4 separate regions of the Homo sapiens genome follow, and all the other regions are reported to be linked to region 4. Evidence: microRNA targets listed by miRTarBase, many of them from high-throughput screens and not tested one by one. Region 4 holds a microRNA gene; each other region holds the end of a gene's coding sequence.

What was found. The annotated mature microRNA hsa-miR-374a-5p reads UUAUAAUACAACCUGAUAAGUG and lies in region 4 at 3,552-3,573, shown strand. An mRNA with a match to its seed (bases 2 to 7 or 8) in the 3' UTR can be bound and repressed. Matches are read on the target gene's strand: a 7mer-m8 pairs with bases 2 to 8, a 7mer-A1 pairs with bases 2 to 7 and ends in A, and an 8mer does both.
Region 1: miRTarBase lists PLAG1 as a target of hsa-miR-374a-5p. Seed matches in the 3' UTR shown: 7mer-m8 at 2,688-2,694, 7mer-m8 at 589-595 and 8mer at 449-456.
Region 2: miRTarBase lists STAU1 as a target of hsa-miR-374a-5p. Seed matches in the 3' UTR shown: 7mer-A1 at 423-429.
Region 3: the mRNA of ADD3 is a reported target of hsa-miR-374a-5p. Seed matches in the 3' UTR shown: 8mer at 527-534, 8mer at 751-758 and 8mer at 882-889.

The regions. Positions count from the first base shown.
Region 1 is chr8:56,162,093-56,167,163 of GRCh38, forward strand. It overlaps PLAG1 (PLAG1 zinc finger), which reads right to left. Exons shown (of 5, transcript NM_002655.3): 5 at 1-5,071. The coding sequence ends at 4,151. Among named protein-coding and RNA genes, the nearest start is that of PLAG1, 47 kb to the right of the region's middle. RefSeq lists an enhancer at 4,577-5,071.
Region 2 is chr20:49,110,209-49,115,279 of GRCh38, reverse strand. STAU1 (staufen double-stranded RNA binding protein 1) reads left to right here. Exons shown (of 14, transcript NM_017453.4): 14 at 387-1,941. The coding sequence ends at 402. Among named protein-coding and RNA genes, the nearest start is that of CSE1L, 66 kb to the right of the region's middle.
Region 3 is chr10:110,133,114-110,138,184 of GRCh38, forward strand. ADD3 (adducin 3) reads left to right here. Exons shown (of 15, transcript NM_016824.5): 15 at 213-2,452. The coding sequence ends at 505. Among named protein-coding and RNA genes, the nearest start is that of MXI1, 72 kb to the right of the region's middle.
Region 4 is chrX:74,285,821-74,290,897 of GRCh38, reverse strand. MIR374A (microRNA 374a) reads left to right here and starts at 3,541; the gene lies at 3,541-3,612. The region is part of intron 1 of FTX (FTX transcript, XIST regulator); the gene reads left to right. It overlaps MIR545 (microRNA 545), which reads left to right and starts at 3,689; the gene lies at 3,689-3,794. LOC124905199 (a long non-coding RNA gene) reads left to right here. Exons shown (of 2, transcript XR_007068266.1): 2 at 468-3,033. RefSeq lists an enhancer at 1-443.

The sequences.
Region 1 (5,071 bases), not on the chromosome of region 4:
CACAACTTATGTAGATCTATGTGATCACAACAGACTTATCTGTGTTGTAGACATGGCTGCTGACACAGTGTGAGAAAAACAAGACAAATTCAACTTAGGCACACATTTACCAGAACTAACAGCCAGCCATTGCTAATGACGAATACTAAACATTTAAAAGATCTCCTCCAATGTCACATGGATCTCAGTAGGCTAGAAGCAACTTGGGTGAACTGGTATTTTTTAACTTACGTACTGGGAAGACAGTGTGCTTTGAGACACGTAAACCTTGTAAAAAAATAAACCATTGTAAAACCTTATGAAAAGACACACACTGATTCTGTGCAATATAGCAAATTGATAAGAAAACACTGTAAAAATGTACCTGTTTAAAATACCATCTACCATTTTTGTACACAAAGCATTATATATCAAAGGCCTACATATATATCATCTAATGGCACTTGAATTATAATAAGTCTTAAAATAAAAGGCATAACCTATAAGAAAGTTTCTGTAAAGGTTTAGATTCATTTTGAAAGTGCTATATCTTGTAATATGTGTAGTATAGAGGTTGACCAAGCTCTATTTTTTAAAAAAATATTGGCCTATAATATGTGTATTGCTCACTAGATGAACGATCCTGAAAATATGTACTCTTTAACATTCATTATTAGCTTAATAAAGCAATCGGCTCTGGCTCATGTTTCAGTCAGTATATGGTTTTTAAAAACCGCTACTGTCCAAATTAACACAATATATCACTATATTCCACAAATGACTAAGAAAAATAAAGCACAAGCAACAAATAGGCAAAAATACACAGCTTGAAAGAAACACTAAATGAAATAAAAAAGTTGCACACAGAGTGATGCATAATCAGCCAGGACAATTGAAGTTTTAAAAAACTGAACTTGGTAATAGGATTTTAAAATGAAAGTTTTAACAGTGATCGATAACTATAAAGGTACTTGTATACATCAATGGATAGCATTGCTTACAGTGCCAAGATCCTTCCACACTCACACTTCCGTGTTTGGTGACCTAACTTGTACATACATGTGGAAGTGAAACTGAATGAGGTTCAATATCTTGTCTGAGGCCCAAATTCTAAACTACTTTTATTTAATGTTAATCCCTTTTTTTTTTTTTTTTTTTTTTTTTTAACCAAGCTAAGGCACTACCAGAAATTTCAAGGATAATGATTCTGGCCACTAGAGAATGAAAACAGCATTGGCAATACTTATTTTTAATCATATCTAGTTGACATAGAAACAAACAATCTTTTTCTAGGGAAAAAAAAGCCAATTCTGTGTTACATCCTTGTTAGAACATTGTGCAATTCAAATAAGCGAGTCTGCCTCATCTTTAATAGAAATTCTCTCAAAAAGGGTTTAGTGACCACTACAGTCAATTTTAAAAACAAATTAGCTGAATTCCCTCTTACTCTGAAGTGTTATTTCAAGTCTGGGGGTGGGAACAGGCAAAGAGGTGTACACATGAAAATTAAGACTCCAAAATTTTAACACTGGTGCCCTGAAGATGTGCCTCCATGTATTTGAATTTCATGCAGGGCAAGATTTAAGTATGTGTGTGTGTGTGTATATATACACACACACACACACACATACACATACATACATATATGGCGCTATTCCCCATTTCCAAAATGCTTTACTTAATAAATCCTGGTACTCCCTTTTTTAAATTAGCAGTGAATACAGCCTACTAAGGCCAATGTCTCAGTTCACTAATTTGATGACTTCTTAAGTACATTTTAAACAGAATAAAGTAGTGCTTCCACACTTGCTATTTGTGATTTCTATTTAAAAATAGGTTTTCTATTTGTGCTCTGTCACCAATTTTTTTCCTTTTATATGGTGATTAAAGCAATATTGAACACTAATCATTCAACTAAAGATTTAGGTAAGCAATCTGTTTCATAGAAACTAAAGGAAGCAGTAATGAAGCAGAGCGAAAAGCCTACTTTCAGAAAAAATATTCTCCTAATCAAAAGCTAGGAGCAGTTTGAAAAATTTAAAAATGTACTTCCTTATTAACATATATAATTTTAATGCCTTTGGAACACACTTTTTTAATAAATGTAATTTTTCATAATAAAATTTAAATACATAAGTATAAAAACTACTGCTCCAAGGATTAAAAAAATATAGGAGCATGATAAAATATCAGGAGCCAAAGCTCCTTCAGAGAGCAACTTTGATTCTATGAAGTGCGGTATGTGTGCATGTGTGTGTGTGTGTGTATTATATATATATATTGAAGCCCCCATTTACATTATTACAATTTACATTTCTCCACAAATTATACTACTCCCAAATATTTTAAATAATGTATTATATTCAGTAATCTGCACTCATTTTTAGAAATTCTTGGTAAACATTGCAATCTGCAGTGATAACTGGCCCTACAAAAAGGAAAGAAGTTTCCATATAGGGCTAATGAGTGCTCAGAAATATTTTTCTTTCTGTTTTTTTTTAAAGAGATATATACTCTTCTAAAAACCTCCCACCCTTGCCCCCATCCCCAACGGAAAGGGTCCTAAAATAAGGTGTTAACAAGTGCTTAATAGATATGTTTCTTAGGTTAATGTCCCAACTGACCCTTAGAAAAATATATTAATTAGACCTTTAAGAAGATTATGTTGGTTGTCTAATGTGAGGAAAAGCCTATAATTATTCAGTGAATATAATATATTCTCAATTGTTATTTTCATGTTAACCAAGATAGGTTTGTTTTACTTTACTTTGTTACCCTCTACAAACTCAACTTATTTGCAATACTCCTATCATTTCCCAGAGATGCATGAAAGTGGGATTTTACTGTATATATTTCTAGTCACTTAAAACTTTGTGGTAGTTCATCAGGTAGTTTTCTAATGCATTTAACTTCAAATTCTCCATCCAAAATATTGCAAGGAAAGATGGATTCACATTGAATCAGAAAGATAACATCGGAGTAGGACTGTTGTTTTTGTTTTCTGCTTTTGATTCTTAAGGGAAAGAAAAACATATCAAATTCAGCAAGAAATGATATAAGCGATATGCTTTTACTTTACTTCTAAAAAGTCCAGTTTTTAACCCTGGCTACAGGGGCCATGATCCCTACACAAGTTCCCAAATGTAACCATGTGCTTCACGTCTATCTTCCTGCTTAGAAGTCTGTCACCCACAGAGGCTGAGTCAATCCACTGTGGGATAAACACACCTCATGGCTGCAGTTCCACAATGGCTCTAGATTATGGACTAACCGTGGGCCAACAATGAAAATAAATTGCTGGCTGCACTTGACCCACCCCTTGGATGTGAAAGGTGGAAAAGACTAAAGAGATCTACCTATATATCGACTCTGAAGACCCCAATGCCATACACTATTACTATTATTAAATGAAAAGATAGCATGTTAAGAAGGATGAAACACGACAAAATATCCTGTGTACTAATTTAGGGCCAACTATTAAGTGACACGAAATGCCATGTCACCTAACAGAGTCTCTTTTTGCTATAAATACTGATGCTTTGTGTTTAGGGTTTGTTTTCCTTAAAGGCTCATAATAAAGATGGCAAATATTTTAGCCAGACAACAGGGAGTCTTCAGAATATACTGATCTGAAATTATGGTGTATCTAACAAACATTTATTATCTTCCGAAACTGGACTCTTAATTCATTTGAAGCACTTGATTATTAATCCATTTAGAAGCTAGTAAGAAAATTTAAACCCTTGAGTTATTCACAAACTTTTTATACAATTTACATTCTATTGCTAAATTTTTTAATGAGCCAGATGTCAAAAGGTAGAGCCACTGTTATTAGACAAAAATGAAAATTTTAAGATCTAAAAGTAATTTGAAAATGGGATTTGTAAAAGTTTACTACTAATAATGGCTTTCCTATATGGAAAAAAAAAAGTCTTAAAATGTGACAATTGGCAGTGAATCAGGACAAAATACCCAGGTAAACTTAACTGAACACAAATGGTTCCAAAGCTCAGTTTAAAAGCTAGTTTCTATTTTATACTGGCTTAATGAAAATTTGTATTATACAAAAGCAGAAATTTTTATACTGTTTTAAAGTAGGCACTAAAATAAAAATGGTCATCTAGGGCACAGCTACACATACATTTCTGTAATGAATCCATGTCCCAGAATCCTACTGAAAAGCTTGATGGAAACGTGGGAGGGTGGTACTTGTGCTTAAACTGCTGGTGAAAGCTGCTGACAGTGAGTGCAGAGACCCAAGCCCTATAGTGTTTGCAGGATCCTGAAGATCCTGTGTTTGTGGGGGGAGCTGGGAAACAGAAGAATGTGCTTCTTCCTGGGAATAGCTCATTCCAAGGCTCCCCACTGATAGAGGATTATAGGGAGGACCATTTAAAGGTATGAAATTAAACAACTGAGAAAAATCCAATGCTGGTGTGTTTAGGGGGTCACTGATGGAGATAGAGCTTTTGGATAGGGAGAGGTCTCCTGCACCATCATCTAGGGACCCAATCTGAGGATCCAACCCTAGCTTAGATGATGACGATGCTTGAGAATCTTGGGATGAAGAGGGCACGCCACCTTGTAACTCCATCAGGTAACTCTCAATTTCCCCCTTTAATGGCTGTTCTTTTTCAGGAATAGAAATTGCATATGAGGTAGAACTGAACGGATATTTGAAAGAAAGGTGGTGAGAGGGATGAACAGTGTCCATATCTATTGGGCATGTCATTCCCAAAGGTAAAGTTGTGATCATTTGGTGGGCAGATCCCGAGCTCTGCATGGACTGAAATGGAGTGTTGTAGAGGTTTAACTGCAAAGTGTTTGTGAATGGCTTTGATAACAGTTCACTGGAAGGTAAGGACATCACCGGAAGGAGCTCGTCTTTTATAGGCACAGACACATTGCAGGTAAATGGGTCAAGGAAATCCACTGGTTCTGTTTTGACCTTCAGAAGCTCTTGATTGTGACTCTTCTTCATATGTCGAGTCAGGTGATCCTTTCGCCCAAATCTCTGTGCACAATACTGACAGAGGAAGTCCTTTCTTCCAGTGTGCACCACCATGTGTCTCCGGACATCCTTTCGGGTGTA
Region 2 (5,071 bases), not on the chromosome of region 4:
TCACATGGTCAGAACTCTGCATTATTTTACAAGGTACAATCTTCCCCTCGGACAGCCCCCATCCCATCCCTCCTATTCTCCCCACCGCCTCCCCCATAGATCACATTTTTACTAGTTTCTCCTGTATCTTTCCTGTATGTTTCTTTATACAAATATAGACATATATTTCTTCCCTCATTTTCTTCCTTTCCCCCCACAGAGATAAGTACACACACTCTCCTTGCGTATTTTACTTACTGGCATACCCTGGGAAAACTTTTGTTATCATAAACTGGGGCTTTTAGTATTGTACTTCCTGATGTTTGCCAATTTCTTTTCATTTTTAACAGTACTTTAATTCTCTTACATTTCAAAACTAGTGTCATTTTCATTTTTCTTCCTTAAAGGTGTGGGAGGTGCTGAACCTTTTCTGGCCATGAACCATTATAAAATCCCAACATATATACTGAAAATACTGAAACTGCTTTGAAAATTTGGAATTTCTGATACCTCCAGTGGGCCGAGAGACACGGTGGGTAAAGGATGTGGGCAGCAGCAGGGAAGACAACAGAAACACAAGGAGGCGGCTGTGGCCGGGCTGGACTGTGCTGGGGTTTGTTGTGATGGCCACTCGGTGACCTGGCGGTCCCTACGCAATAGCAGCTGCCTGTGGGGAAGAAGGGCTGCCCAGCCAGCTGGTTCTCCCGGGACACCAGCAGATCCACACCCTGGGCACCTCCGTGTTTGGTCTTTTTTTTCCCCTGTGTGAAAGAAGAAACGGCACGACCCCTTCTCAAGCTGGCTCACTCAGACACATTGGGACAAACCCTGGACAGCCATGCCAGAGAGAGGCCTTTGACCGGCCCCAGAGCTAAAAGCACCAGAGAAAATCAAATGCTTCCTACTCAGCGTGACCCAACTTTTCTAGTGTGCCACGGCCCCACCACCTCCTGCAGTACCCACACCATCACCACTGCTTTCTCTTCCAACAGTGATCTGTATTCTTAGTTTCATTATTTTCTTTTGATTGATATGACACTATATAAAATTTTCATTTGAGAATTTCTCAATTGTATCTAGTTAAATAGCACAGTTTGGAAACTTGTCTGAGACTGACTTTATCAATAATCTAACCGACAAAGATCATATCCATGTGTATGTGGTTAGACATTTTTATTTCATTGACTAACCCAGGACAGTTTCAGTGATGCAAATTGTGTGCCCTCTGGTTCAGCTGAAACAGTCCTGGACTTTCAAAAACCTTGAATAAGTCTCCCACAGTTGTATAAATTGGACAATTTAGGAATTTTAAACTTTAGATGATCATTTGGTTCCATTTTTATTTCATTTTTATTTTTGTTAATGCAAACAGGACTTAAATGAACTTTGATCTCTGTTTTAAAGATTATTAAAAAACATTGTGTATCTATACATATGGCTCTTGAGGACTTAGCTTTCACTACACTACAGGATATGATCTCCATGTAGTCCATATAAACCTGCAGAGTGATTTTCCAGAGTGCTCGATACTGTTAATTACATCTCCATTAGGGCTGAAAAGAATGACCTACGTTTCTGTATACAGCTGTGTTGCTTTTGATGTTGTGTTACTGTACACAGAAGTGTGTGCACTGAGGCTCTGCGTGTGGTCCGTATGGAAAGCCTGGTAGCCCTGCGAGTTAAGTACTGCTTCCATTCATTGTTTACGCTGGAATTTTTCTCCCCATGGAATGTAAGTAAAACTTAAGTGTTTGTCATCAATAAATGGTAATACTAAATTTTTTTGTTAATTTATTCTCAAATGCCACTACTGCTAGGTTGGTCCCCTCCCAACTTGCCCCTATCCTTTTTTTATTTTTAAGAAAAAAACTTTGTAATGCTTGTGATTCCATCTGGGCAAAAGTCTGAAGATCTGAAATAACTTTATATCAAACCATTGATCAATAAACAGCTACTAATGAAGTGTTTGGTCCTGTTGAGCAGTAACTAAAATAAGGGAAGATGTGAGTAAGGGGATGGAAGCTCGTCGTGGGGGGACCAGGGCCAGCCCCTCTGGGAAGCGTTGCTGCCTCAGAGGCATGTTGGGTACCTGGATGTAGGGACTTGTGCCCCGTCCAGACCTGACATTGCTACCCAAAGAAATGACCCCAAGGAGCTGAGAGGAGACTGCCGGACACTTCCCAGGGCATCCTCATCTCTCACCATAACTGAGCACTGAGGAGGACATGCGTTCCAGCCTGGTTGAGGGTTGGGCTAGTTGGTTTTCATTTTTTAATTTTAGAAGAAGTGGAAGAAGATTATAAAGGCTTCACTGTAAAGCCAGCCTATGATTGTACTGCCGGAATAACTGAAAGTGATCAGAAGGTTATGGAAAACACTAAGGGCAGAAGGAAATGCAACATTTTGAGGAGAAAAGCAGTGAAAGGAGAAAAAGTGTCTTTACGTCTTTAAAAACAACAAAAAAAGAATTCATGGACCTGTGACTCACATCACAACCCTCCCCCAGACTGAAGGTTCTTAGAGAAGCTGAGCCTGGGGCCCTGACTTGATGCACTTTCGCAGGGAGCGTACTTGCTGGCGGCAACACTGGAAGCCGACCAGTGTGATCTTTTGTGTCTTCGACTATTTATAAAAATTCATTCTGGGCCGGGCGCAGTGGCTCACACCTGTAATCCCAGCACTTTGGGGGGCCGAGGCAGGTGGATCATGAGGTCAGGAGATCGAGACCATCCTGGCTAACACGGTGAAACCCCACCTCTACTAAAAATACAAAAAAATTAGCCGGGCATGGTGGCAGGTGCCTGTAGTCCCAGCTACTCGGGAGGCTGAGGCAGGAGAATGGTGTGAACCCGGGAGGCGGAGCTTGCCGTGAGCAGAGATCGCGCCACTGCACTCCAGCCTGGGCGACAGAGCGAGACTCCGTCTCAAAAAAAAAAAAAAAACTCATTCTGGGTACTTCATTGAAGAAGGGGTGCCCTGGGGTAACTTTGGTAATACACTCAAGTAAGCATTAAGTGTTAAAAATATTACAATAAAAAATTATAGTTCAAAAACAGTAGTAAGTTTTTCTTCTTTTTATTTTTATTTTTTTGAGATGGAGTCTGGCTCTGTCACCCAGGCTGGAGTGCAGTGGTGCAATCTGGAATCACTGCAACCTCCTCTTCCCGGGTTCAGGCAATTCTCTTGTCTCAGCCTCCCTCCTGAGTAGCTGGGATCATAGGCACGTGCCAGTGCGCTTGGCCAATTTTTGTATTTTTAGTAGAGATGGGATTTCACCATGTTGGCCAGGCTGGTCTCGAACTGACCTCAAGTGATCTGGCCACCTCGGCCTCCCAAAGTGCTGGGATTACAGGTGTGAGCCACTGCGCCTGGCTTAAGTTTTTCATGAGTAGCTTTGCATAGTAAGACATTACAATATAGCTTTTTTTTTCCTTTTTGAGACAGTAGCTTGCTCTGTTACCCAGGCTGGGTTGCAGTGGCCTCAAGCGATCCTCCTGCCTTGACTTCCCAGAGTGTTGGGATTACAGGTGTGAGCCACTGCACCCAGCAGTATATAGCCTTTCTTTACTACTTTTTTTTTTAAAGACAGTGTCCTGCTCTGTCACCCACACTGGAGTGTAGTGGCATGATCACAGCTCACTGCAGCCTTGACTGGGCTCAGGTGATTCTCCCACCTCAGTTTCCTGAGTAGCTGGGACTACAGGCACATGACACCATTCCTGGCTAATGATTTTTTTTTTTTTTTAAGAGAGAGGGTCTCACTACATTGCCCAGGCCAGTCCAACTGGGTTCAAGTGATCCTGTCATCTCATCCTCCCAAAGTGCTGGGATTGCAGGTGTGAGTCACTGCACCTAGTCCTTTAACTTTTAAAATTTTATTTTAAAATAATTTCACAGATAAAAGGTACATTTTACTGAAATTATGTGTACATTGTCTCCCCTGGTCTCCCTCTCTCTTCAAAATTTAGATATTCCCCCAAGTCAGGGAGTGAACACTGCATCCAGTCCATGGACCCCATGCAGATCTCGCCAGCTGTCCCAACAGTGTCTTGTCCTTTCCTGGTCCAGGGTCCCTGTCAAGAGGTGTGTGTTGCCTTTAGTTTTCTCCTGCTGTCTGCATCAGTCCTCTCGGCATCTGTGTTTCACGTCCTAGTGGGGTGAAGCCCGCAGACCTCTCTGTAGTACACCCTCAGCCTGGGTCTGGATGATGGTGACCAGACCTAGGCAGCACTTTTGTGGCAGGAAAGCCACAGAAATGCTGCGCTCTTCTCTGTATGTCACTCCAGGGGCATACAGTTTGTTAACCTTGGTGACCCAGGCAGATTGCTCCACTGTCAGTCAGGTCACACTATGTCTCTTGGTAATCAAGGAGTATTTTGTGGGGAGGCATCCTCAAAGCACATGACCAGCCTGTTCCTCTTCAGACCTCTACCCTCCATCCTTGTCCTTCACTTACAACTTCCATGTGAATCCACCACCACTGCCCATCCATGAGCTTCCATGTCCAATGTTCCTTCTGCCGACACCCTGCCCCTGCATGGAGGCGCCTTCCCTCCCCATTGATGCAGTGTGTCAGCTAATGGACTCCTAGTCTGGGTCGCAATCCATTGCAACCATTTATTTGATGTTCAAATTACTTCAAATTTGGACATCAGAAGACCTGTCAAGGTGACTCTTGTGTCCTTTTGGCATGTTTCCATCTTAAAATTGTAAAAAATTGTGGTAAGACACATAGAAAATTTACCATCCTATTAACCACTTTTTTTTTTTTTTTTTTAAAACAGCATCCCAATCTGTCATCCAGGCTGGAGTGCAGCAGTGTGATCCTGGCTCACTGCAACCTTGCTCTCCTGGGCTTTCCTCCTACCTCAGCCTCCCGAATAGCTGAGACTACAGGTGTGCACATCCATGCCCAGCTAATTTTTTTTTGTACAGTCGAGGTCTTGCTATGTTGCCCAGACTGCTAACTACTTTTAAGTGTACAGTTTATTCATAATGTGTAGCCACCACAATCCAACTCCATAACTTTTCATTTTGTAAAACTTAAACTGTTCCCATGAAACACTAACTCCCCTCGCATGCTCCTTCCAGC
Region 3 (5,071 bases), not on the chromosome of region 4:
TCTTTGGTTTAACAACTTTGTTCCTTTCCCCTTTATATCATTAAAGAAAATTAGCTTCTTGCTAATAGATCACAGTTTATTAAAATAATGATCTGTCTTCATTGGAATCAAAGTAATGCCTTATTACATTGCTAAAACATTTCAGTTTTGTAAAGTAGAGCAAAAATGTTAAGTATGTAAAATAACCCCCAAAAAACCCTCCCCTTTCGTAGAAAACCATGAGCTGTTTTCCAAGAGCTTCATCTCCATGGAAGTGCCTGTCATGGTAGTAAATGGCAAGGATGATATGCATGATGTTGAAGATGAGCTTGCTAAGCGAGTGAGTAGGTTAAGCACAAGTACAACCATAGAAAACATCGAGATTACTATTAAGTCTCCAGAGAAAATCGAAGAAGTCCTGTCACCTGAAGGCTCCCCTTCAAAATCGCCATCCAAGAAAAAGAAGAAATTCCGCACTCCTTCTTTTCTGAAAAAGAACAAAAAAAAGGAGAAAGTTGAGGCCTAAATAAAGTCTTTTTATAATTATTATTATAACAATGTGACATTGCACATCTAAATACCACATTTAAGTTGATCATTAATATGCAATGGTAGATCAGATTGGGGGATGTAGCAAACTGGACTTTAAGAACTGGAAAGAGGTTTTACAAAAGAAAAACTTTCAGATTCATCTCTCATTTTATATGTCCAGAAATGGCTTTGAATTTTAAGCAATTACTAGTTTTAATTAGCTCTGCCCTCATGAAGTATTATTATAATTCACCATAAACAGCTATCTGTCTGAATTACTTCAGGCCTTCTCCATAATATCTGTTAGAAAGAAATTGCCAGTGAGCAAGTGAGAATTTTTATTTCTCAATACCTGCTTCACTTGATAATCATATTATAATTTTTTATCATGATTATTGACTATATTTTTGGAGTCCCATTGTTTCAGTGGGCATTAACAGAATGCTTTAAAAACTTCTAAGACAAGAATCTATAGCATTAGTATACACTGGCACATAATTTTTTAAAAAGTTTTAAGAAAAGATTCATTTGGAATTTTATTCACAGTATAAAATTTCCTCACCTGAAGTAACTTTGTTTGCCAAAAAAGTTGTTTTAATAAACTATAATTTTTGAAAACTTCCTTTTTTATTAGTTTAGAAAGCCCCTTATTTTTCAACAAAGGGGATTTTGTACACATAACATGGGTTATTTAGTTTAACTCTGGCAAAAAAAAAAAAAAAAATTTTGTATGTTGATGTTTGTATACCGTTCAGTATAAAAGTGTCCTAAGCATATTAGCCAATCTTTTCACAGTAGAGCATACTTAAGGCTGCTTGGTACTGAGTATACTTAAATATAACTCCAGAATCCAGGGACTTGGTGTTAAAACAGGATTAGAGCATGTAAAGGTACATCTAGATTCATATTTGAATCTTAAACTGTATTTTTCTCTTAGTATTGCTAATGAGTAAAGAAAAGTCTCATAAGGTAGCCAAATGAAAAAGAATGAAAGGGAAAGTGAAAAATTAAGGGGACAAAAGATGGGATGTGAAAAGAAGAATTCTAGTTTGATGGTGACTCATATTCACGATAGGATACAAAGTGTGATTTGTTGGAAACATGTCCCAAATTTCTAAAATTCTGCTTCTCTGCCAAAAGCAATGTCTTTCTTGGTTGATATTTGAGTTTTAAAAGGGTCAAATCTTTCTAATTTTTTGTATCTTTAGAGGGCAGCACTAGAAGAAATCAGCAGGTCTAATCCCACCAGTAAGAAAACTACCACTTCTTGATTTTTACAGATTTAAAAAAATCTTTTCAGTGACCTTTCTTTTTAATGTAAATACAAATTTAAACCTAGGCTTAATATAGGCGTTTCCCCTTTCACCCAAGTGATGTCACAGTTCGATGCAAAATCAATGATCCAGAATGATCGTGGGTAAAAATAACTCAAAGTGTTTCTTAAGGGTGAGTTGGCATGCAAAAAATTACATTGATTACAGTGTGTTTTGGAGCTGGCTCTGTTTGTGTGCATATGATAATGCAGAGTTGAGCCAGAGCCTGGAAATGTCATTCTAGATCTCACTAACTACTGGAATCAGTGTTTTAATCTCTTGGTGGAAACTTTCAGTTGCTTAACTCTCTATTGGAAGATTTTTTTAATGTTCTACATCATTTATGTTGTATTACAATGTATGTAGAAATAGTAACCTGTGAACTATGCTTTTCCATAACTTTTTAAAAATATATATATCTAAATGAATGCAATGTGCATAAATATTTTTTAAACATAACAGTGAACTATTGCACCTTTTGCTAATGCCTCTATTTACTTGCTTTGGCATAAAGAATGAGCCAATGAACCTCTGTGTCCTGTGGAAAAATGTATAAATGTTATCTGATATTGCTCTTAGATGTAATGCTAATTAATGTTAAATCACAAATAAACAGTATTTTAAATATACGGACTTGTATCATGAGGTTTCCATTCACAGGTGGTTACTTAGCCTATTCATGGTCTGTTGAGTTTTATACTTCAGTGAAACTTGGTAAGTTATTGATGCTTCTGAATAAAGAATGTCCTGATAAATATATTTTCAAATTAGTTGAAAATTATATATATATACAAAACCTGTCTTTTTTCAGCTTATGTTAGAGGAGATATTCCCTGAGAGACCTGTTTTGTCTCTTGATAATGGGTATGGCAGCCTCTATCAATGTAGAATAGATGTTGCAGGATATGTACCTCTCTGATTTTTAATGTATTTGTTGTACAAATAACAATGTAATAGAAAAACAGCAGAAAGAGTAGAAAGTAGTTCACAATTTTATCACATTCACTTTTTTTTTTTTTTTTTTGAAACGGAGTCTCACTCTTGCCCAGTCTGGAGTGCAGTGGCACAAACTTGGTTCACTGCAACCTCCGCCTCCCACGTTCAAGTGATTCTCATGCGTCAGCCTGTTGAGTAACTGGGATTACAGGCATGCGGCACCATGCCCAACTAATTTTTGTATTTTTAGTAGAGACAGAGTTTTGCCATGTTGGTCAGGCTGGTCCTGAACTCCTGACTTCAAACAGTCCACCCACCTCGGCCTCCCAAAGTGCTGGGATTACAGGTGTAAGCCACTGTGCCCAGCCTTTTTTCCTTTTTGACATGGTCGCCCAGGCTGGAGTGCAGTGGTGTGATCATAGCTCAATGCAGCCTCAAACTCCTGGGCTCAAGTGATCTTCCTTCCTTAGCCTCCCAAGTAGCTTGGACTACAGGCATGCACCACCACACCCAGCTATTTTGTTTCTTTGTTTTTTGTTGAGACAGGATCTCACCGTGTTATCCTGGATTCAAGTGATGCTCTTGCCTCAGCCTTTCAAATCATAAGGATTATAGACGTGAGCCACCATGTCTGGTCCATATTCACATTTAAAAAAATTATATTCCCTTCCAGCTATTATCTAGTTATATATATTTATATATATATCATTTATATGTAGGTGTTTTTTATATATTATGGTGTGAATGTAATTTTTCAGGGTTTTTTTTCCTACTTAGATAACACATCTAGATTTTCAAACTAAATCTGTCATATGAATAACTTCTTGTGATTATTTTTCTACTTTGCCCTAAAAATACAGTACAAGAGGAGGATAACATGTTAATTGAGGGCTCTGGTTAATTGAAGTTTTTACTATAATTACCCATTATAAAAATGAAGGGTTTGGTCAGAGAAAAATAGTCATAGTCTTGGGCATATTTAATTATTACCTTGGCTTGTAAATCACCCTGTGGTAAAAAATTGCTATTTTAGAAAGATGCTCATTTCAAAATTCCCTTTCATAAAGCAACAAAGGCGATTATCTTCAGTTCTCACTTGAGAGTCAATATAGTAGAAAAGTTCGCATGTGCCTTTTCTTCATTGATTAGTATTTTCATTCAGGGAATAAAAACCAAACTGATAAAATTTGTGACAGCACTGGCTTCTCTTAACATCAGGCCCCTTTTTCCCCCCCACATAGGCAGAAAATACAGACTGGTTATTTCTTTTCAAACTCAAGGTTGATACATACACATATCCAAGTTGCAATCTTGGCCAAACTGGGATTTTGATAAAAACAGTCTTGTTTGTGGCCACTAGAGGGAGTAATAGATCTAACAATCCAATGTTTCCATTCCTTGCACTGAACTTCCCTATTTAGTCTGTAGGCACCATGTTTGTTGTGAAATACCCAGAACTTGAAAGAGAAGGCATTTCCTTTGTTGTTTATTCTCCTCAGTAGATCGTTCTCGACTTTGTTTCCTTAGCAGGTCTCATTACAGATATCACCCACAGTGGAGAACACATAGAAAGTTGTGGTGTGCTCTCAGAGGCTGTGATAGGATATGACACCTCAGAGTTTTCATACCTGTGAGTGACAAGACAATGCCTTCTTCAATAATTGACTTTTTTTTTTCTTTTTTACTAAGGAGCTAACCGATAATATTTTTTGTTGATGCCTTCTGTGTACCAAACGTTAGGCTAAATGCTTTTCATATATGACTTCATTTGGCCTTCCCAGTATCCCAACAAAGTAGATGATATTATTCCCATTTTGTAGATAATGAAACTAAGGCTTGTAGAAGATGAAAAGTAGGTGGTAGGATTCCACCCATAGAGATTCAGACTTCTATAATTACTCATGCCATCTGTGTGCCAGACCCTGTGTGGCTGCAGTACATTTCCATGGTTTTTAGGAAGAGGCAGTTATCTTAGTTTGGACTGTAAGTCAAGCCACGGTGAACTTGTATTTTGATATAAGTAGATTTGGGATCAAACATTGACTTTTGATTTGGAAGACTTTTTTCCCTAACAAATCACCTCAAGAATGAAGAAATTGGTGGATACCTGAGAAGCAGGAATGACCTGTGGTGATAGCAACCTTTAGGATAAAGAACCAGCTCCTAAATCTTACACCATGACACCTGGAAGACAAGTTATCATACTTTTGCTTAAGATGCAGCAGAGACTTGAGAAGAAGCCCTTTTTCTTTTTCTTTTCTTCTTGATTTCCATTATTGGAAACAGAAGAAACATTCTAAGGAAAATGTTTT
Region 4 (5,077 bases):
TATTCCCTAAAAAGAGGGGGCGAATTTAAAGGAACCTTCTTTTATGATTTCAAAATTTGTTTGTAACTAACCAAAACCATTTGAGAAAGAAGACCTGTTTTCTGTTTCTGACTGTGCAGACTACAGGGTTACATACCTAGGAGACAAAAGATAAAGAATTGTTGATTTGGTGCCTAGTGGGGTGGCTATCCTTAACTACCCTTGTTTTCTGTGCTTTTTGTTCTGCAGAGGGTCTAAAATGGCCGACTGCGGCAGGCTGGACACACCCTTCTTGTTTTGCCTGATTTTCTGTCTGATCTAATGCTTTGAGACATCTAACCAGTCATTTACTGCAGTAGTTTTTTTTTTAACCCATTATTAGTATTTCGTGTTGATCTAAATATACAATAGTGATGGAAAGGTTATTGTCTTTTTTCTTGTAATAAAAGACTGAAAATACATTTGTTTTATTTTTATTATTTGCTTAGGATACATTCGTGGAAGTGGAGTTAGTACATCAAAGGGTATGAACATTTTAAACTCTCAGTATCTATTGCCAAATTTCTTCCTAAAAAGGTTGTATCAATTTTTACTCATACAAGCGCTGAATGTTGTTGTTTTTTAATTTTTAATGGATAAAAACCAGTATTAATTTTTCGTTTGCCTATTAGTTTGGATTTTCTTCCTCCATATATATCTCAGCAGTTTTCTTTCATGTAATGATAGTTCATATCTTATGTTGATTTATGCGTTGAAGTTTTAGTTTACTGTTTATTATTATCTGTTTGTGTTCTGTAAATAAAGATTAGTATTCAGACTTTTGTAATGTTATAAATACCTACTCCATGTTATTGTTTGCCTCTTAATTTTTGTCTTTAAATTTTTGGCTAGTAGAGATTTGAAATTATTTGACAAATTTATCTTCTATTTTGTGATTTTTATTCTATTGTTTAAATTTGAATAGCTCCCTCAGTCTAGAAATTTGGTAAATATTGTAACTTTGCCTGAGGGTAACTATCAAGCATGGGAGAAAAAACATCCATGATTTTACCACCCAGAGATAACTATTGTTAATACATTTATTCACTTCATTCTCTGCATTTTTCTTTGCAGTTGATAATATATGTGTACTATTTTATATTGTGTTTTGTTTTTAACATTATAACATGCGCATGTCCATGTTAAACATTCTTTGTAATTGTCATTGTTTCATGATGTTCTGTTGTATGGAAGTATTTTACAGATTTTCAGTATTTTAAATTATGTAATGAATATCTTTTCATTTGGTTTTTATTATTTATTTTGGGTTGTTTATCGAAGAGACTTCTAGAATTAGTTATTTGTCAAAAGATTTGAACATTATAAAGAATTGGCATATTTACTTTTCAAAAAATTAATGTCAGTTTTTGTACCCAGTCATTTAGGTACTTATAAAAAATGTTTTTGCTTTTTTTTTTTTTGCTGACTCCATATGTAAATGAATGAATGATATCTCTGTGGGGTTTTTTTGTTTTTGTTTTTTTCTGAGACAGGCTCTCCCCCTGTCGCCTAGGCTGGAGTACAGTGGCGTGATCATGGCTCACTGAAGCCTCAACTTCCAGGGCTCCAGAGATCCTCCTACCTCAGCCTCCTGAGTAGCGGGAGTACAGGTGTGTGCCACCATGTCCAGCTAATTTTTAAATTTTTTTGTAGAGATGGAGTTTTGCCATGTTGCTCAGGCTTGTCTTGAACTCCTGGGCTCAAGTGATTTTCCCACCCCGGCTTCCCAAAATGCTGGGATTACAGGGGTGAGCCACCATACCTGGCCGATATCTTTGTTTTGTGATACAGTTCTCTGATTATTAGTGAGGCTGGACTTTTAGATCTTAATTACTAGCTCTTATTTCCTTTTGTGAATTATTCAATTTGTGCCTGAATGTTATTTGTAAGTTGCAAATGTCGTTTGTTGCAGATATGCTCCCAGTAATATTTGTTGCCATTGAGTCTGAAGAAATGTTTGCAATTCCAAATATAACTGCTGTGTGGATACATGTCTGGTTCTTGGTAGCCATTTTGAGATAACATTTGTCTGACCTCTATCTTATTTTTGTTTTTATTTTTAGAGTGGAGGTCTTGCCCAGGCTGGTCTCGAACTCCTGGGCTCAAGCAATCTTTCTGCCTCCGCCTCCCAAAGTGCTGGGATTACAGGCATAAGCCACCTTACCCAGCCTTGTCTGACCTTTAAACAGAAATCCATTTCTTTTTATCTAAAAGGAAAGCACTTTTGAGTACTGTACAACAGTGGTGCTTCCTGGCTCTGGGCATGGGGAGAAGACAGGGCAACATTTTGTCCCTAATGAGAAACTAATTTAGACAAGAAACAAAACAGCGGTCCCTTCTCCCCCATCCATTCAGGGACTGGTCTTATTTTAAATATTTCTGAGTGGTCTGAGGGAGGATATGGGCAATATTGAAGTGTCCACATTTATACATACTGTTAAATGCTTTGGGGATGTGAAATGCTAATAGGAACACGCTAGCATGTGAGAAGGCACCAGGAGTGGGCTAATTGGCAGAAAGGAACAGTGTATAGGCAAGAGCAGTGAAATAACTTTAGGGGAAAATAGTATGTTAAGCTTATTAAATAACAGCCTCATAGAGACATTGGGTCCCAAAACAGTGATCTCAGTATAACTGTCAACAACTTGCTGATGTTATCAGCCCTATTTGCTGGTCAGAGACAAAAAAGCCAGTAAAAACCTAGGTATTATTAAGAAAGGTATGAGGCACAGAAAAATGCCATCTTATCTTTGTATAAAACCATCTGAACCAAATAACTATTACAGTAATAATCTTGCCTCAAGGAGTCTGTTACTATCACTCACATGATTTTGAAAAGGGAGTGGGCAGAGTGTGTTATCTCTCTGTTTCATTTTTCTTGTTTATAATACATAGGTGAATTAGATATTCTCAAAGGTCTTGGAGGGGTCTAATTCTGGTTTCCTGAAACTGAATGTTATTTCTAGTTTAGAGAATCTGTTTAATTATGTTTATTAAATAAACTTTTCTAACTTATTCCTACTCTGATCTGTATATTATCTATTTTGTATTTAATAACATTCTAACTTTTTTTTTCCAGTGAAGGATGAGGATTATTGGATTTAGAAGTGCCAAATGAGCTATTACTTACTGCTTTTTGCTATCCGGTTACACTGGGTTAATCCAGTTAGTTGTAAGCTCCCATTTTTCAGCATTTTGCTAGCTGTAGATATTAAACCAGGCTCATGTGGGTAGTAGGGTGGGGAGGTTAAGAGGAGTATAAGCAAAAAGGAAAAAAAAAAGCTCATATTTTAGAGGAGGGGATTGAGAAGTTCCTTTATTGGAAGTCTGTGCATGGAAGTCCCATTTTACATCATGCCAGTGTCTAGTTCCCAATTCCGTCTATGGCCACGGGTTAGGGAAAGCCTGAATATTTGAAATAACCGAAAAGCATTTAACCTTTGATTTCTATAATTTGTTCCTCACCTCTCTTGATGTTACAGCCAGCAGCAGCCTGGAGCAGCACCCCCTGGGAAGAAATTTTACATCGGCCATTATAATACAACCTGATAAGTGTTATAGCACTTATCAGATTGTATTGTAATTGTCTGTGTATATGCCTGTCTCTCTTCCTGTTATCAGTTAGACTGTGAGCTCCTTGAGGGCAAGGAAGGTGTCTTCATCTCCAGAGCCCAGCCTGGCACATTAGTAGGCCTCAGTAAATGTTTATTAGATGAATAAATGAATGACTCATCAGCAAACATTTATTGTGTGCCTGCTAAAGTGAGCTCCACAGGCTCTGGATTGTCAGCTGTTTCTTCAAAAAGCATGTGGTCAGAAATTTGATATTTCTGTATATATCTTCCTAAGAGTTTCTCATGAGACAATGCCATTTTTGTGTTTGGATTTCAGTCCTTGATATTTACAGATGTTGCAACTGTTGCTATTGCTGACACTTGCTTTCTTGGTGGGACTTGAGTGATAACTGTTAGATTGGGGCCTCATCCTCAGGGCCCAGGTAATCATCCAAATAGTATTCTTAGATAGGACTTTGCATTTTTCTTTCTTTTTTTTTTTTTTTTAAGGGACAGGTTCTCACTCTGTTGCCCAGGCTGGAGTGCAATGGTGCGAACACGGGTCACTGCAGCCTCGAACTCCTAGGCTCAGGTGATCTTCCACCTCAGCATTCTGAGTTAGGACTATAGGTGTGTGCCACCACCCCTGGCTAATGTTTGTATTTTTCGTAGAGAAGGGGTCTCGTTATGGTGCCCAGGCTGTTCTTGAACTCCTGGACTCAAGCGATCTACCTCCCTCAGCCTCCCAGAGTGCTGGGATTACAGGTGTGAGCCACTGCACCCAACCAGACTCCATATTCTAAACCAAGGGTGGGCAAACTTTATTGCCCATGGGCTACCTGTTTTTGTAAATACCATTCTATATTGGAACACAGCCATGTTCATTCATCGATGTTTTACCTGGGGCCGCTTTTGCGGCCCAGTGGCACAATTAAGTAGCTATTAGGTTGGTGCAAAAGTAGTTGCTGTTTTTGCCATTAAATATATTGGAGACATTGTGGCCCACAAAGCCTTTGTAGAAAAAGATCTGTGCCCACTCTGGATCATCACTCGACAGTGATGGTTTCATTTCTCATTCCATTCACCAGACCAGAAATTCATATTTATTTACTTCATTTGTCATTGCTTGTGACAAGTCTTTTTCCTCTTTTACAGATAAGCCAGCTAAGACATGTTTTAAAGTAGAAGATTATAAGACCTCCCCCAGGGTCCTGCAGTCAGTCAGTTATACCCTGCCCTTCAACATCAAGCTTTGAACCTCTACTCTAGAAATACCTTTTATTATATTCAAACTTGAAGCACGTGGACATAGCATGCTTTGGTGCCTTCGTCCTTGCCCCCCTCCTTCCTACACAGTTCTTTGCAATGAGAATATGGGAAATAAGGACTTAATGTGAGATAAGGCAGAAAGGTAAGCTGAGGCAAATGTTTAGAGGGTCCCTAACACTAATTTTTAAATGAAGAAGTGGGGTGTCTGAAATACTCATTTATTTAGATGTATACAG